Linked DNA regions of Homo sapiens: region 2 is linked to region 1. The links come from fine-mapping of genetic effects on gene expression. Tissue or cell type: whole blood. Region 1 holds a variant in brackets; the other region holds the start of a gene. All regions are shown on one strand. Distances are from middle to middle.

Region 1 (2,761 bases):
GGTGACATGAAGCAAGGTGGAATGCCAAAAAATGAAGAAAAATATACTTTCCTGTCGTCCATGCTGATACCTGTGTTTGTTGGCTGAATCCCTGAAAGCTATTCCTTTGTCTCCCTCTTCAAGTACTGATTTCCAGACAGCCACCTGACCGCCACCTGAGCTCATATTACTGCCCCTTGCCTAGGAGATCTTTGTATAGCTCCTAACTCTGAAGCTTTGTGGCCAAAGGAAGTTATTTATGCCATCTGTAAAAGAGGGAGCAAAATGGCTGCCTCTTATATTGTGTTCCACAAGGGTGCTCAGGAAATTTATGAAAAATCTATTCCAGTGACTGCTGAGATATGAATGTTGAACTCCTAATGGCTGCTAATGGGCGATCTTATTGCACTCTTCCTGTTTTCCTTACCCCCAAGTGGTCAGCCAGCATTCAGAGAGGGTAAGAAAGATGGGGGGGTTGGTGAATAATGATTGCCGGGTAAACCACCAGGGACTGGGTTTGATAATGCATCCTCACTTGGAAATGCCTGAGCAGGAAGCACCTCCGAGACATAGTCCAGGAAGGCCCCAAAAAGCTTTCCAGGTAGAGATCGGTGAGTTTCTATGATCCCCAGAACCTGGGAATCCTCCTGACAACTTTGTATTGTCCTAGGGTGCTTGATTTATCTGGCTGAGTCCCTTACTTTTATATAGACCAGTTTTCTAAAACTTGAGGGCAGATGCTTGTCTTCTACCATAAAATGCTGGTAAGAAAGAGATTTCACAACCCATTCTAAAATTTAATTTTTCTTTAGTCTTCCAAAAATATGAAAAGTCACTAGTTATACTTTCTCATGTAGTAAATTCCAGAACTCCCTTGTCATTTGATACTTACAATACCTTACAAGGAAGATATGCCAGAACCATGTGGTAATAAAACCTTTTTCCATATATATATTGGTAATGTTCCACAAACCAAATCAGCTTTCCTAATACAACTTTGTACAGCGATCAGATACATTAGGCCTATCACTCACCACTGAAAAAAGACAGTGGTGGCTCACACCTGTAATCCCAGCACTGTGGGAGGCCGAGGCGGGCAGATCACGAGGTCAGGAGATCGAGACCATCCTGGCTAACACAGTGTAACCCTGTCTCTACTAAAAATACAAAAAATTAGCCGGGCGTGGTGGCGGGCGCCTGTAGCCCCAGCTACTGGGGAGGCTGAGGCAGGAGAATGGCGTGAACCTGGGAGGCAGAGCTTGCACTGAGCTGAGATCCCACCACTGCACTCCAGCCTGGGCGACAGAGCGAGACTCTGTCTTAAAAAAAAAAAAAAGACAGTGGTATCCAACAATTATCATATCAAATACTTGATATATAACAGTTC[CTT/C]TTTTTTTTTTGATATATTTAAGAGAGAATAAGAAATCCCCAACCATGTTAAATTCTTTACCAAGAATCACAATAATTTTTTGATCCCTAGAGAAAGGTGATTTGACAGCAGGAAATCTGACCTCTGGGGCTACCTCTCCCCTTTACCTACTCATAATCATTTTGGTCAGCAACAACTGTTGTTTTTCAGTGTTTTTCATAAAGACAGTGCAGAAGCTCAGGGCAATACCAGATGATGGCAAAGACCAAAATAATACAAAATACTCAAGCAAAGGCAAACATTAAGGGCCTTTGAAATTTCCGTCTCTGTTGCCTATTCCCACTCTTTCCACCCACATCTACTCTCCGTGATGCAATGAAGGCCTGGGTATGTGGGTAGTAATGACTGCATAATTCTATCTTTAAAAAAATCTATTGAATTAAGGAAGCTGCAGAAAATGAGGAAAACTTATTGAAAACCATCAGAACGAAAAGTTCTCAAACCCAAGTAAATTGCTGCTGAGGCTTATCATTGATGATGTTTCACTTTCTTTATGTGGTTAATTGCTTCCTGCCTCCATAGATGATTTTATCCATCTTTATCAGCTTTTGTTTTGTTATTAGTGCCCAGGCATTGGCATGGTTCATCTGGTACTCCATTAGACTTGTGGCAAGCACAAAAGCCAGGACTAAAGGAAGAAAATTAATTGCTTACCCTGCTAATATCAATTCATTTTCACCTTCTTGCTTTGGCCTGACTTCACCATACTGTTGACAAGTTATATTTTTCTTGTTAGTTCTTTGATCCTCAAAAGCTAAAAATCAGCCCAGATAGATGAGAAAGAAAAGACAGCATTAAAACCACTGTTATTGCCTCTGGTGAGGTATGTAGTTTTGGGCTAAGGCACAGCCCTTCTGCCCAACATGAACAGGCTGAGATGAATCTAAGCCAATTTTGATGAATGGCCAGCAGAAGACAAGATCTTGGAGTTTCTTTGAGCAAACCATAAGAAGCTACTCTCTAAATTTTGCTGACTTTATACCAGAGCTCTTACATGCAGAGGCACTTCTCAGCTCCAGTTGATATAGCCTGGAGCAGTGCTGCCAGAGGTAGCAGTGTTGCCCCTAGACGTCACTCTCTCCATCGTTCAGTAGTTCCCAAAGGACCTTCCACCACTCCAGATCTACATGACAGATACCTCCAGAGTCTAGAACTTGAGGGTCAGGCGGCTCTTCCTCCCTCTAGAGCCCACCAGTCTGGATTAGGGTAAGCCTATGGGCTAAGGAGGTCAAATACACTTGACTGGCTCCATTTATTCCATCACGGGCCATGCTAGGAGCTGTCATTTTAGGGACACACAGGAACATCACTGTCTCTGTCTTTCAAATGGCTTTATTTGCTGCTTTTGACTCA
Region 2 (2,500 bases), 200 kb after region 1:
CTGTGCACTCTCGGGGTGACTGAGCCCCCTCCAAGGAGCCCCGCCCCAGAGGCCCCCCCTAGCCCTCCTGCGGGGGCCTGCGGGGGCGCTGTGTCCCCCATCTTACCGGACACAATGATTGCTGCCTCTGGGATGGTGAGGTGGAAAGAGGCTACTGCTGGCTATTGCAGGCAAGTCTGTTTTTGACAATGTGAGCTCAGTGTTCAGGGCCACATGAATAGAGGTCTTCAGAGGTTGTGGGGGAGCCGTGGAGAAGTTGTGGGGGAGGGGAGTTAGTAAAAAGAGGGTGGGGAGAAAGAATAGAAACCAACTGGGGGGAGGATAAGTTGGAAACAAACCCTGATTAACTTACTCTAATTGCATTTGACAGCTCTGGAGAAGTTGGACAGAGTTGGTGGATTTTTTTTCCTCCACCAAGCTGACAAGAGCCACTAGGTACTTTGTAAACACACGATCTGGGGGTTAGATCAAGAATTCAGGGATTGTCCAGCAAGAGACAGAAACACACAGCAAAAGGTATTGAGAGAGGTATTAATAGAGAGGACTCCCCCTCACCTAGTTGTTTCCGACAATTCTTTATGGGGATGTTTCTGCAGAGAAACACATTTCTACCATGTCTATGTAACCAGCAGCCTTGACTTTTCCTCAGGTTAAATAAAAAACCAAAACAAAACAAAACAGTGCTGTTTCAGAAGATGTTTAAGTCACTGTTCAAAATGTGCAAAAATCAAGGGAGACTGTCTTTTGGCTTTTAATTTTTCCTCCCTTTCCTTTCGCTCCGGTGTTTTCTCCTCTTTGGGGTACTGTAGGATGTTGTCTTCTCCCAAAAGAGGGAGACAGCTTTTCAACTGTTAACAATGTCAGTAATTGGACTTTTGGACCATGCTTTTTTCTTCAGCTAATCCAATCACCGGTAAAATCCTCACTCCCTCTAAGGTTTCCTAGCCTTAAATGAAAAGCAATCTTAAGTCGCTAGCCACTGAGAGAGATCCTTCAACACATTTTTTTCTTTCCCGCTTACGTTTCTATTCCTCACCCCCGGCTCTATTCTAATACAGTATCAAGAGAGACAAACTCTTCCGAGAGTAATTTACAAACGATGGTCAAACTTACAAACTTCCAGCAAATTGCACCGAGTCATGTCCAGCCACTTTTCTGTCCACTTTTGTACATTCCATCCCCGGCCAGTGGATCTGAGGGTCTGGACTCGCAATAAGCAATCTGGTTCTATCTCCTGTATTTGCTCCGCTTTATAGATGGAAAAAAAAAGTAGCTTGTATTTTCCTTTCTCTTTCTCGTCTGTTGTTAGCCGCTTTGCTGACACTGGCTCGCGCCCGGAGTCACGGCGATACACAGGCTTTCATTGTGCTCCGATAGGAGAGGGAGAGAAAGAGAGAGAGTGAGACAGAGAAGGAGAAAGAGAGAGCCAGCAAGCTGCAGATGGGGGTGGGGGGGCGGGGAGAGGGCGGGAGAGCTCGTTCGAGGCTCCCTGGTGGAAGGCTGGTGCCACTGCGCGAGTGAGTAATCGCAGCCAGGCACCGGGGAAAGGGGAACGCAGAGGGCCTCCCAGTGGCTGAAGAGGTAAATCCCAAGCCCTGCGCATCTCAGCTGCCCTGGCTCAGCTCAGCATCAGACTCGGTTAAGCGGGGAAGGCTGGGGAAATTCCCCAACCTCTACACAACCATTTCACCAGCTCTAAATGTTTAAGAAATTCCGGGCCAGGAATGTGTTTTCCCTTTCAGCCCTACATTACGCCCCGCTGAGGATATCATTTTCATTTTTCAGTATATTGTAAATGACACCACTGAGCAACCTAGCACGAGCTGTGTGAGCACCGAGGAAATGTTCATTAATAGAATAAGGAAGATATGAATGTGTGTGTTGAGGGCGGAAGGGGTTGCGCGTGGAGAGGAGAGGTAATCACATTGTTAGCTCCTAAAGGGCAGGCAGGTGTAGCGTTTGTCTACCTGCCTGCCCATTTGTGTGTCTCTGGATAAGTGAGTCTGGGTGATCACAGGCAAATCAGTTGGGATAAATAAAATATTTTATGAGAATGATACAATTATCGATACCAGTTCTAGAAAAAAACGCTTTTTTTTTGGGAATGCATGATTGCCTATGAAAAACCAAATATAAGACCTGAAGTATCCTTAGCTACCTGGTGCACATATACAATGAGGAAAGTCAATGTGTAGCAGCTGAGTTTCAAAAAGTTTTTTTTTTTTTTTTCTTTTAATGGAGTCTTGTTATGTTGCCCAGGCTGGAGTTGAACTCCTGGGCTCAAGTGATCCTCCCACTTGAGCCTCCTGAGTAGCTGGAACTACAGGTACTCACCACTACTGCACCTGGCTCTGAGTTTCAAGAAGTTTAATAATAGAAACCAAATAGATCTCACACAGATCATTGTTCCCCCATTTTCAAGTGATCCAACCTTTAAAATATCCAATCCTGGCCAGGCACAGTGGCTCACGCCTGTAATCCCAGCACTTTGGGAGGCCAA

What was found. PIP is the estimated chance that this variant, and not a neighbour inherited with it, causes the effect.
Region 2: MAML2 starts here. The variant in region 1 is fine-mapped to the expression of MAML2 in whole blood (INTERVAL, PIP 0.93).

The regions. Positions count from the first base shown.
Region 1 is chr11:96,138,176-96,140,936 of GRCh38, forward strand. The region is part of intron 1 of MAML2 (mastermind like transcriptional coactivator 2); the gene reads right to left. Among named protein-coding and RNA genes, the nearest start is that of MIR1260B, 200 kb to the right of the region's middle. The variant CTT/C (reference allele first, on the strand shown) is at 1,367.
Region 2 is chr11:96,341,795-96,344,294 of GRCh38, forward strand. MAML2 (mastermind like transcriptional coactivator 2) reads right to left here and starts at 1,401. Exons shown (of 5, transcript NM_032427.4): 1 at 1-1,401. The coding sequence starts at 101. RefSeq lists silencers at 18-277, 1,395-1,584.